4 linked regions of the Homo sapiens genome follow. The protein of the gene in region 1 purifies or fractionates together with the protein of each later gene. This does not show direct contact. Each region holds a gene or a part of one and is shown in the gene's direction. Other genes may lie near its edges.

Region 1 (2,601 bases):
CCAGGCCTGCTCAGTGACCCTTTCTCTAGGGGGACATCAGGGCAGTGCCCCACAACCCACACACACCACCATCTCACTGGGTCTAGTCTCATCTCAGACAACCCCCACCCCCACTGTTTCTGGGGTTCCCTTTCTCATCTCTCCCACCCTGTCTCCTGCCTCTGTCTTTCTTGGTGTCTGTCTGGGCTTCTTTCTGTCTCTTTCTGTCTTTCTGTCTCTCTCCCTACCCCCGCTCCCTCTTTCCAGTGCTCTGGCTGGCTGTCTCTCCCTTTCTCCCCCTCTCTCTCTGCCTTAGGCTCTGTCTCCACCGCAGGGCCCAAGGTGAAAGTCCTCCCCTTGCCGGAGGCCAGCTGGCAGGGCCTTTCGTGGCTGGAAGTGGCCAGTTTGGTTCCGGTGCTGACCCCTAGGCCCCAGCGCAGCTGCCTCCCGTGCTGTCTGTCTCCCCCTCTCTGTTTATGTCTGCGCTGTGTCTCACACTCAGAGCCTCCTTGCTTCTGTTAGGTTCCCATCTCTCCTTCTGCCTCACTCTGGGCCTCTTCTTTCTACTTGTACATTTCCACCTCTCTAGGCCTCTGCTCTCACTGTCCCTCTCTGTCTGTCTCTCAGCCTTTATCTCTGGGTTTTGATCCCCCACTCCAGGCTCTGGGCCCCTTCTTCCCCCTTCCCTCAAACCTGGCTGCTATAGGCAGCAGAACCCTGACCACTGAGTAATACAGCCCCAGGGGAGGGAGGAGACCCCAGGCAGGGAGGATGGGGGCAGCTCTCTTCTCTCCCCAGGACCCAGGCTGTGGATCACGGGGCCTGCCAGCTTGAGTGTAGAGGGAGGGGGGACTCTACCCTTCTCAGCCCCACCAGCCCCCCTCTGCCCAACCACAATTTTCCCTTCCTCCGCCTTCCTCTCCCTCTCCTGTTTACACTCCCCAAATGCGCACAGGCTGTTATCATGGGTCCTGAGTCATCCCACACACAGCCTGCCCCAGCGTCCCTGCCCCCAGCTGGCCGCAGGGCCCGCCCCATGGAGCCCCCTGCCGCCCTGGGCTAATGGGAGCCAGATGGCCGCCTGGTGACTCAGCCACCGGGCCTGTGGGAACCCAGGCGTCCCGCCTTCCCATGCCCCCACACCCGGCTCCTGCTCCCCCAGCAGACACACACAGGAGGGCCTGGCCACTGTTGAGGGGGCACACAGGGCAAGGGTCACCAAGTCGGGGCCTAGGGACTCCTCATGCCTCTGAGATGGAATGGTGGTATCCTGCCGTGGCCAAGCCTGAAGGACCCTCAAAACTGCCTCCTGGAGTCCACGGTTCCTGACCTCCGAGCCTCAGCTATGCCCTCTGGGTCAACCAGAATTAGAGCCAGACAGGGAAAGTGAGAGCTGGATGGAGGCAGACAAGATGCTCAGAGCGACTATTAAAGAACGAAAGCCTCTGCTACGGAGCGCTTCTGTCCTCTGTCAGGCCCGAGCGAAGTGCCTGACACCGGGTTGGATCCTCAGATGGCCCCATGAACTAGTGAAGTGGGTCAAAGGAGGCCTGGAAAGATGTTGCTTCCTCAAGGCCACTCGGCCATCAGAGGCAGAAATGAAACAGGAACCCAGGCCTAGAATCACAAAGGTCCTAGAAACCACTTGGCTGTCTGGCCTCTCAGGTGTCAGGGCCATCCAGAGTGAGACAGCATTGGAGGGACAAGTGTGCATGCAGATGTCCTCAGACGGGAAGGTTTGAGAAGGGTCAGATGGTAGGCGGGCCTAACAAGGGCTCCGTGCTAGCCACTGTCCCGCACACAGACAGGATCAGGTCATCTTGATATGGAGATCAGTCCCCAAATCACTGAATTGTCCCAGCAGTGCTATGCCCTAGGTACTACCAATATCACTCCTCTATTTCCCAGAGGAGGAAGCAGCAGCTAGACTCCAGGACCTTGGGGTCATATCTCTCAGAAAGCCAAGAGTGCAGGATGAGAGCTGTCTGTCTCTTACCTGCCTGTATTTGTGCCCCATTTTTAAAGAGCAGAGGGCCTGGGCCACAGGAAAGGTATCAGCCCTTGGTGATAGGCACATTTTTTACCAGTCTATCATTTGGTCATTAAATTTGTTTACAATATACTTTGCTATACGTAAATTTGTTGTGTAGGTTTTTAAAAAGCGATGAGAGACACAGAAATTGAGTCAGAATTAGGGTTAGTCAGATGGTCAAGACGTGAGCATCTAGCTGACAGACAGAGGTGGAGCCAGTCCCAGGGACAGGGATTAGATGGGGAGACAGGAAGAGAGGTGGAGACAGAGTGGGGTAGGGATGACGGGAGACACACCCCCTGGTCACTGCCTCTGAGACCTGGGGGTGGTGGGCCCCAGGGCGGGTGCCTCCCATCCCCCTCCCAGTTCTCCCGGGGTCGGGGTAGGTGGAAAGGCTGAGTCAGGGAGGGCGGGCCCCGCTGGGAGACAACCCCTAGGTGGGCATCCGGCCCCCACCCCCGTGTCTCCTGTCCGTCCTGGCCCTGGCCTGGCTCGCTGGCCTGGCCGCCACCCCGCCCCCCACGTCTGACACCTCCATGCGTCCTGCCAAAGCAAGCTGCCTCCCTGCACTCTTCCCCCTCCAGCTCCAG
Region 2 (3,500 bases), on another chromosome or scaffold:
TAGAACAGATGATTAGATACTTTTTTTCTTCATTGTCAATACATATTTCCTCTTTAATTTAAATGTACTAACCATGCCTGCTTGAAAAATGTTACTAAATGCCTAAACAAACCATCACTATAAAACATCTTACTTAGATCCAGGACCTTAAAACAAAGGAAGATAGAGAGTAAAAATGATTTTGATTTCTTCATCCACTGAACTTCCCCACCCTGGCATCTTAAATAAACCAGAATATTTATAGTATGAAATGATTTATGAATGCCCCACGCGGGATTTTACTTGTGTGGCGTTCCTGGTACTTAAATGGAAAATTGAAGCACGTTGCTATGTTGCTTTTTATTTTGTAAAAACTACTTTGTTTTCTGAAAATAATTTTTTCTTTTCCCTTTTTTGCATAATAAAAATCTTTTACCCTTTTTAATAGATGAATGAAGAAATGCTGTGCCAAGAATTTGGAAGATTTGGACCGTTAGCCAGTGTGAAAATCATGTGGCCTAGAACTGATGAAGAAAGAGCCAGAGAGAGAAATTGCGGCTTTGTGGCCTTTATGAATAGAAGAGATGCTGAAAGAGCTTTAAAAAATTTGAATGGTAAGAACATTTTTATTATCCATTTATACAATTCAGATATTTCTTTGGTTTGGAAAAGTATTTATAAAAACTAGGAAGGATTGGACCTGAAATGGAGAGGTTAAAATGAAAATTATTTCAACTCACCAGAAAAATTTTGTTTGGAAACTTTTGAGAGTTAACAAAATGACCTTTCATTTCTTTCTTGTAGGAAAAATGATTATGTCTTTTGAAATGAAGTTAGGTTGGGGTAAAGCTGTACCTATTCCTCCACATCCAATATACATTCCGCCTTCTATGATGGAACATACGCTTCCCCCACCTCCATCCGGACTGCCTTTTAATGCGCAGCCTAGAGAGCGGTTAAAAAACCCTAATGCTCCTATGTTACCGCCACCTAAAAACAAAGAGGATTTTGAGAAGGTAATTTAAAAAATGGACATAAGGCCGCATCTAATTTGTAAATACTAAAGCTGTGGTAGTATTTCTTTTCAACAATTTTATAGAAAATGTGTGTGTAATTCTGTTTGGCAACTTTTAAAGAAATAAGTAGATGTGTTCCCTGCCTTAGCCCATGGAAACCCTATATTTGAAATACTAGGTCATATTTTTATTTGTGGCTACCATTCCTTTTTTGACCACTTGTTAAGTTTTTTTTCCTTTGTCCAGTGTTGTATCCAGATTTGCTTAAGTGTATTAACTAAATTTACTTTGTTCTGAGAAAGTGATACTTTGTATTTGGTTAAGTGACATTTCAATTAGAAAGACCTCCTAAGTAGTTATTGTTTGGATGGCAGCTAGATCTGAGGTATTAGAATATTTGAGAAGATTTATGTGGTTTGTAAAAAATAGTTAATCTAGTAAAAGCAAAGGGTGAGTATTTTCTTTTTAGTAAATAAAACCAACTTAATTTCAAGTTATAAGAATTCGTTGGTTCTATTATGAATTAATTACACTTAAAATGACAGGGCTGGTTTTAAAGGCTTGGGAACAAAGTAGCGAACTGTATGGTCAGAGGCAAACAGTTAATTATTTCACAAATTAAAATCTTTATCTGATAATTCTCAGTGTAGTACCTATTTCAGTGCATTGATGTGCATTCTGGCAGGAATGTTCTGATTCTTTGCATTTGGTGAACGTTTATTGTTCACTGAACACATCCATTTGCATTTATGTAATTGCTTAGTGTATAATGACTTCAAATGCAGTGATTGCCTGCAAAACTTGTGATTAGATATGTAGTATTTTCAATGCATATGTATATTTTTGCTTGTTACTTGTTAACAATACTCACATATTCTATGTTTATTATCTGATGTGACTTCATATACAGACTCTGTCGCAAGCCATAGTCAAAGTGGTTATCCCAACAGAAAGGTACATGTTTTTCTTTATTATTACTGATCTAAATATAGACAATATCCCCTTCTGAATTTAAAAAGAAATGGTGTTGAGGAAAAGGTAGTATCTTGACTGAGCAATGGTTCCTTCCCAGTACTTTTTGCGGGGGGATGTGTGAAATTTAACTAACTTTTGTATACTTTGCAATTTTATGTCAGTATCTTTTTTTGTTTTTATTGTTATCACTGTAGGGAATGTTTATAGTTTGACTAGTTAGAGTGTATTTATTAGCTCTGATTTGGAGTCAGACAATAGACTATTGTCATGGGAAAATAGATGTTTTAAGTGTGTCGTAAATTTCAGATAACGTTACAGTTTGACCCAATCTGTTGTTATTTTTTTCTTGTTTTCTGAATTATCTGCATTTAATATATAACCTTGGTTTGAGTTCTCCTTACTGAAGGCATAGCTTTGTTTTTTGTTTTTTCAATTGATTTTAAGAAGAAATTCCTATTATTGTCATGAACACTGGACATACTAGAAACTTTCTTTTCATGGTAACAAAGGTATTTGGAATTCTTTTATTTTCCTTTCTTCCTTTTTTTCTCTTTCAACACACTATTAAAGCAGAAGAATTCATGCTGTAGGTATGCTCTTGCTCAGTCAAGCTAAGCCTTTTCCCAAACACAGGAACACAACACTGGTTGAATAATAAATGAACACAAAAGAATACCAAATTCTCTTTGACATTGGCCTTGGTGAGCAACACCAGCTGAACTGTCTGCGGCAGCGGGGGACCAGGAAAACATCATGGGATGGATTGGGAAAGTATACAGTTTTTGACCAGACATTGGTACGATCGACTCCAATAAATGTGGTTTTATTATAACTGAGAGACAATTTTTTGTTTTTGTTTTTTTTTTGGTTATTGTTGCCCAGAATAAGATAATTACCATTTTAAAATTAAATAATGCACTTTAAATATATCATCTTTTTGTACTACACTGTTTTATTCTAATAGAAAAGTCACCATTTTTAAAATAAACACAATCCTTAAGGAAGAAGAATGTGATTACAGTTCTTTAGTAATCTTGACATCAAGTTAATAACAATTAATTGTCAGATTTTGATTTTAAATAATCATGAAACATTTTAAAAATACTTATAAACTTTTAATTTTCTAAAAATAGATTTATCAGTTACAAGCCTGTTTAAAACTATAGTGGGTTTTTCACCACTGATAAAAGCATTCACAGGATAGTATTTTTGTAGCATTCAAAAAAAGCACATATCTAGTGGTAGCTTTACATGTATGTGGCTCAGCTTATTTCTAAACAAAATTTTGAGTGTGCGTTTTGCCGAAAGTCTTCACTCACCATTAGGATGAATCCTTTGTTTTTAAACTTGCTAAACAATTTTCCTCTATCTTAAATGCTAAAGTCAAGTTGCTTTTGACTTAATTCACACAAGTTTCTGGATGTATAACATTTGTCCACCTAGTAATTAGTCTTATACATAAAATTTCCCTTAGCTTTAATTTGGCTCCTATCAGTGGGGAGTTTTGGAATTGAATCATAACTTTACATT
Region 3 (3,500 bases), on another chromosome or scaffold:
AATAATTGTATGTTAAATAATTGTATTGAAAGTGCTTTGTAAAACATAAAATGCTTTGGAAATATAAGTGTTGCTATGTGGTCTGAAGTGGTACTCATAGTTAGTGGGCTAGAGCCACTGGAGGAGGTCTTCATGAAGAACGGAGCATTTTAACTTGGTCTTAGAGGAGGAGCCTTTGAATAGATGAAGAGGAGTAGGAAGGCAATCTTAGATATGTGATATGGTTTGGCTCTGTGTCCCCACCCAAATCTCACCTTGAATTGTAATAATCCCCGTGTCAAGGATGGGACCAGGTGGAGATAATTGAATTATGGCGGCAGTTTCTGCCATGCTGGTCTCATGACACTGAGTTCTCACGAGATCTTATGGATTTATAAGGGGCTTCCCTGTTTGCTCAGCGCTCATTTCTCTCTCGTGCCTCCATGTGAAGAAGGATGTGTTTGCTTCCCCTTCTGCCATCCTTGTAAGTTTCCTGAGGCCTCCCCAGCCCTGTGGTACTGAGTCAATTAAACCTCTTTCCTTTATAAATTTCCTAGTCTTGGGCAGTTCTTTATTGCAGCGTGAGAGTGAACTAATACAGATGTGTGTGTGTGTATGTGTAGCAGGGGATCCATACTAACAAAGGCATGATATGTGGGTAGGGACTATAAAAACCCTGCTGAGTGGAGCACAGGTATGTGTAGGGAGTGGTAGAAAAAAGATTGGACAAACAGTCCAACCTTTTCCTTCTAATGCTGGAGGAAAGACATTTGCTACTATTAAGTCTTGCAGAATTTATTACTGCTACCTTTGTTAGAAAATTGTGAGTGGAAGGATTGTTATGAAGGAATACATCAATAAATTAATTTCCAAAGTTTTTCCTGTCACATCTACAATAACATTTGGAAATATTGTTTAGAGAGGCTTGAAATCACCCACAATATGCCTAAAGAAGTGCAAGTACTTTCTTTTTAGGTGATATAGTTACTGCTTTTAGAGGTTATATCATTAAAGCTTAGTAGATGATGGCACCACAGTACTAAATTTATTTAATGTTGTATATACTTTTATTATTATTATAAATAATCAGAAATGGGTGTTAAATTATACTAAGTATTGTTTAGTGGCATGTACTTTTTTCTCCCTTATCTGTTACATATGAACCCATTTCTAAGTTTTTCTGAGCATACACTACATGATCATGTGGATTTTGTACTTTAGTAAGTTGCTGGACTTAATTTGCTAATCCTTTATTTTGGATTTTTACATATATTTCATGGACTAGAAAGTAGTCCAAAAAACTGTTGAACTGAAAGTACATGACTGCTCCTCCTGAAAGCAGTCTAAGAGTAGAATGGTGTTTGCCCGGGGGTGGAGGAGGGGGCAATGAGGAGTTATTGTTTAATGGGTATGGAGTTTCAGTTTGGGAAGATGAAAAAGTTCTGGAGATGAATGGTGGTGGTGGTTGCACACAAAGGTGAATGAACTATATGTACTTAATGCTACTTAATGCCTCTGAACTGTACACTTAAATGGTTAAGATGGTAAATTTTATATTTTACTACAATAAAAATTTTTTTTTGAAAGTCCAAAAAAGCATATTGAAAATATGGCATTGATATAACTTTAACAACCACAGATATCGGGAGGCAATTCAGAAGTGGGATGAAGCACTACAGTTAACTCCAAATGATGCTACCCTATACGAGATGAAATCACAGGTAATAATTATGAAGAATTTCACTTTCCTTATGAAATTGTGCTATGTTTGTTCGGTGAGTGAGCAATGATGAAGCAAAATAGCATTTTCTCCCATTTTCTTTTACAAATACGGTTTCTTTGGGAAAAAATATTTCACCATTATTTATGGTTCTGTCTTATGCATAAAACTGGAAATTCATTTGCCTTTACAATGAAGTTAACTGTTATTTTAGCCTAACTATTGTAAGATAGGAATCGGTGGCTATCTTTTAAAGTCACTGGTGGGCAGGTGCCATGGCTCACGTCTGTAATCCCAGCAATTTGGGAGGCCGAGGTGGGTGGATCACTTGAGGTCAGAAGTTCGAGACCACCCTGACCAACATGGTGAAACCTTGCCTCTACTAAAAATACAAATATTAGCTGGGCGTGGTGGCACATGCCTGTAGTCCCAGCTACTTGAGAGGCTGAGGCAGGAGGACCACTTGAACGTGGGAGGCGGAGGTTGCAGTGAGCTGAGATAGTGCCACTGCACTCCAGCCTGGGTGACACAGCGAGACTCCATCTCAAAAAAATAAATAAGTAAATAAAAAATAAATAAAAAGTCACTGTTGAGCTCTTAGATGAAAAACATACGCTTTCCTTGTGATTAAATATAGTAGACTTAGCAAAATAGTTCAGTTTTCTTAAAAATGAGGATGGATTGGGTTCTAGATGAGATATTTCTAAAAATGGCTTAGTCCTTAGCAAAAGGTCAGCATAGATGCAATTTTATTAATAGCTTAAAAATAACATTTGTACTTTAAAAACATGTTTCTAATATTTTGTAGGAAAGTCTGTAAAGAAAACCTTTGAGCACTTGAATAGGTTATCCAAGTGATTTTAAAAGTCTCACACAGAGCATTAAACATATTTTTGGCAGGGAATTGTTGCAATTCAGCCTTAATCTGCACACCTAACAAATATTTTTCAAATCGTGATCTCAAATATAGGACACACATTTGTCACCTTTGACTTTAGTTTATCCAGGAAAAACCCAAATAAATTATGTCATCTGAATCAAGTGATATGAGGACCTTCATTTGTATTCCTTTTTCAATCTTAAATATGTATATATGAATGACAGGTTTGTGGCAAGCTTTATGAAGACTTGTTTAATTTGGAACCTGATAATAATGTTTGTATCACAAATCTTTTAAAGTGTTAATGGTCCTAAAGATTATAGATAAAATCCAGCCTCTTCCCACAGACCACAGTGGAGGGTACTAGAACTCTCTGGTAACCCTAACTCTCCCTAACCCTAACCCTAACCCTAACCCTACCTTCCTAGTATGTATGGTTTGAAATGCCCAGTAGTGAGAAGGCCTAGGGAATGTTTTAAATACTTTTTATAACATAAAGATGTTCATTAGGGACGGGATGGCTGGTTGAACAAATTAATTCACCTAGTTTAATGGCAATACCTGGGGTTCCCTGAAAACCACATTGTAAATAGAATAAATGGAAGTGGAATTGGGAGTTCAAAATACCTCTGAGCCACCATAGTTAGGATATGACCACTTGGTTTTGACCAGATGGACATAAGATTCAATAACTGGAAAGGGAATCGTTTACATTTTCATAGTTATATAAGGGGTGAAAAGAGAACTATAATTTCTTACCCTGAATGGCAGAGTAAGGGGTAAAAATCACCGAAATGCTATTTTTACTGGACTAAAAATATATCTTAAAAAATGAAAAGGGTTTTTTATGTAGTTGCTAGTTTATGAATATTACTGACAGATTTTTTGGTCTTTTTTTGCCTATAGGTGCTAATGTCTCTT
Region 4 (3,500 bases), on another chromosome or scaffold:
AGCAGCAGCAACAGCAGATTCAGCAGCAGCAGCTCCAGCGCATGCACCAGCAGCAGCAGCAGCAGCAGATGCAAAGTCAGACAGCGCCACACTTGAGTCAGACGTCACAGGCGCTGCAGCATCAGGTTCCACCTCAGCAGCCCCCGCAGCAGCAGCAGCAACAGCAGCCACCACCATCGCCTCAGCAGCATCAGCTTTTTGGACATGATCCAGCAGTGGAGAGTTAGTAATGGAGATTATTTTTCCTCTCTCCTAAAAGTCTTGTACCCACATAAATGCTTTGAGAGTGTTTGAGTGTGGGGTGAGGATTCATATCAAAACAATTACTACAAAATGGAGAGTGTGAGTCTCATACCTAACAAAGAATATAGTTACCATGGGATAATTATGCTTTCTTTTGTACTTTGGGACATCATATCCTGAAGTGAATATTGGTGTCCCGTAGAACATCTAGGCTGCCACAGGGACTCATTCAGGGTATTTAATGGCCAGGCATGAGTTACCTTGGTTTTAGTTTTTAATGATCATTTGATGTAGACAGTTAAATAGTATCTTCGTAGCAATATTCCCTATGCACTCTGATTACTGGCAGATACGTCATGGTCAAGACTGATAAACATAACAGATTGACATTGTGAGGCGCCACTTTTTAACTTTTGTGCAAGCATATTCATAGGGTTTTAATTTTCTTTTTCTTATGTAATTTTACTCTAGTTCCAGAAGAAGGCTTCTTATTGGGATGTGTGTTTGCAATTGCGGATTATCCAGAGCAGATGTCTGATAAGCAACTGCTGGCCACCTGGAAAAGGGTGAGATTGTGCCTGGAGGAAGGATGACTGTGTCTGAAGATGCTTCTTTCTTATGTAGATGTAACTGTGTTCACTTAGCTGCATTCACTGAGCTGCACCTGCACGTGTTCTGAATGTGTGACGGGCATTTTGATTAACATTCTGTGTGACCTGAGGCACAGCACTTTTCTGGGCATCAGTTTTCTCAGCTGTTAGATGAAGATGGTGGACTTTTTATTTTTTTCAGCTTGGAAATTCCAGGGGGCACTAATTATATGTGTATAATTGGGGCAATGGAAATAAGTTCAGGGTTTTGGTGTCCTGGGAGAGGGACTATTAATTTGTATGCATCTCAGTCATTTCTCTTTCTCCAAAGGTAACTGTTAGAAAATCCTGGAATCTCTAGAACCTCAAATTCTTCCAGCCCAATTGTGAAACTGGAGTTAATTTAATTATGTATTATCATGCATGGTGGCCTTTAAAGAAAAGAAATACTTTTTCTTGCATTCCCCAAAACAAAACTGAGTCAAAAAATTTTTTTTATAAAAACCGAGTTTAAATATGCCTCTAATATATCTTGAATGTGCTTCACTATAAACATCCCTAGTGCTTAAATCCCTGCTATGTGCCAAGCATGCTGCAAGACTTAGGGAATATGTGCGAAATCACAGAGACGGAGAAAACGGAAGAGCAGTGCGAGAGGCAGCCACACGGCTAAGCAGAGGTGGGGTGGCAAATGCAGGCTGTTGTGAGAGCCTGAGAAAGGACCTTCACCCATCGTGTTGTGGGGTGATGTGTTAAGAAAAGTCTGCTGGGAGAGGTGATTCCTGAACTGCTTATAGGATGAGTAGGAGTGAGAATTAGGGGGGAGGATTTTCCAAATAGTGCAGCACAGCCAAAGGCATGTGATTGGTGAAACTGACAGGAGGGTGCAAAGGAGGGTGCCTCAGTGGGATCCACGAGGCAGGGGTTGGGGCAGGAGCCAGGGCTGGTGTGTCTTCCAAGACCTTGTTGGTGTGCCATGTGGTGAAGTTTAGATGCAGGTGAAGTGATCAGCTGTGCATTTTAAATAGTAAAGGGTTGAATCTGAGGGTGACCAGGGAGATGACTGTGTGGCTGGCTGAGGAAAGAGGCGGATGGCATGTGCCAGGGTGAGGAAGGAAGGGAGCAGTTCTGAGAAGGACAGCAGCAGAGATTTTTTAAAAGTCAGAAGTGTTCGAAGGCAGCACTGAGAAACTGTCTTGAGAAGTACAACAAAACTCAAAGATACAAAAGTTAGTGGAGAAAAGTTTGGGGTTTTTGTCTTGTTTTCAAGTTAAAAGATTTATCCAAGAGGTCTAACATTAAATAGGATCTTGGGAACAGAGAAAATGAAGGCAAGAACATTATGAAAGAAAATAGCTTTGCAACTGAAGGCCATGTGCCCTCAGGTTGAAAAGAAATGTAAGGAGAGCCATGATAAGGCAACTGGGAACATTCACAATGCTGGTAGAGAAAACTGTTTTCTCTCAAAGACAAGCTCACTGGAGGGGAAACGTGGACAGATCAGGAGTCTGGGTGATTTCGGGAGCCTCCAGTGCAGTGCGCGGGGGCCAGCAATGGAGCAGCTTCTTCCATTTTTGAGGGAAAATAATTTCCAACCTAAAATAACCTATAGAGCCTATCAGTCATAAGACTATGGAAGGAGGATATTTGTAGACTAATGGTAAAAAATGTACCTCCCTTATATTCTTTCTTAGGAAGCCACTATGCCAGCAGAGAGTGAAACATGGTAGCCAGGAAATGAGGCATTTGACTCAGAGATTGAAAGAGAGTTCCTAGGATGGAGGTAAAGGGAAACGCCAATAGATGAGAAAGTAGGTGTCGAGAGAACTAGACCTGGGACCGGAAGAGAGACTTCCAGGAGGAGCAAGCAAACGAAAACACTGGTAGATTGAGGAGAGACATGTACCGCTGACCCCTGAACAGTGTGGGGCCTAGGGGTGCTCACCCCCATGCAATCAGAGATCTGTACATCACTTTTGATTCCCGAAAACCCAAATTACTAATAGCCTGGTGTTAACCAGAAGCCTTACTGATAAACAGGCAATTAACGCATATTTTGTATATGTATTACCATATTCTTACAATAAAGTAAGCTAAAGAAAAGAAAATGTTATTAAGAAAATCATAAGGAAGAGAAAATATATGTACTATTCATTAAGGGGAAGTATATCATCATAAAGGTCTTCATCCTCGTCGTTTTCACGATGAGTGGGCCTAGGAGGAGGAGGGACAGGAGGGGCTGGTCTTACTCCCTCAGGGGTGGCAGAGGTGGAAGAAAATCCAGCTATCAGTGGACCCACACAGTTCACACCTGTGTTGCTTAAGTATAGGTGATACTACATTCATTTTCTCTTGCTGTGTAACAGATTATCTCAAAACCCAGTGGCTTAAAACAATAAACATTACCTCTCAGTTTGGTCGTGGGTCAGAAATCCTGCAACAGCTTGGCAGGGCGGTTGTGGCTCAGCTATCTCCTGAGGTTGCAGTCAGGATGCCAGCGGAGGCTGCAGGAGCCCCTTCCAGGATGGTTCCGTCACATGGCTGTGGGCTGGAGGCCTCAGCTCCTCACCACAGAGGCTCTCCAGAGGGCTGGTTGTGTGTCTTCACAGCATGACAGCTGGCTCCCTTCCCCAGGGGGTGTGACCCAAGATAGAGGGAAAACCCGCA

The links. The genes of interacting proteins can lie anywhere in the genome.
Region 2: the proteins of CCDC97 (region 1) and U2SURP purify together in Homo sapiens (affinity purification with mass spectrometry; one large-scale study listed by BioGRID and IntAct). This does not show direct contact.
Region 3: the proteins of CCDC97 (region 1) and TTC33 purify together in Homo sapiens (affinity purification with mass spectrometry; 2 studies listed by BioGRID and IntAct, with this or other methods). This does not show direct contact.
Region 4: the proteins of CCDC97 (region 1) and PAXIP1 purify together in Homo sapiens (affinity purification with mass spectrometry; 2 studies listed by BioGRID and IntAct, with this or other methods). This does not show direct contact.

What each region holds. Positions count from the first base shown.
Region 1 is NC_000019.10:41,322,773-41,325,373, forward strand, and holds the end of CCDC97 (coiled-coil domain-containing protein 97), read left to right. Parts: 3' UTR 1-2,101; downstream 2,102-2,601. UniProt on the Homo sapiens protein: May play a role pre-mRNA splicing through the association with the splicing factor SF3B complex which is involved in branch-site recognition.
Region 2 is NC_000003.12:143,022,070-143,025,569, forward strand, and holds part of U2SURP (U2 snRNP-associated SURP motif-containing protein), read left to right. Parts: intron 1-427; coding exon 428-593; intron 594-783; coding exon 784-995; intron 996-1,905; coding exon 1,906-1,949; intron 1,950-2,414; exon of another isoform or gene 2,415-2,479; intron 2,480-3,500.
Region 3 is NC_000005.10:40,728,462-40,731,961, reverse strand, and holds part of TTC33 (tetratricopeptide repeat protein 33), read left to right. Parts: intron 1-1,618; coding exon 1,619-1,700; intron 1,701-3,485; coding exon 3,486-3,500.
Region 4 is NC_000007.14:154,965,125-154,968,624, reverse strand, and holds part of PAXIP1 (PAX-interacting protein 1), read left to right. Parts: coding exon 1-222; intron 223-714; coding exon 715-809; intron 810-3,500.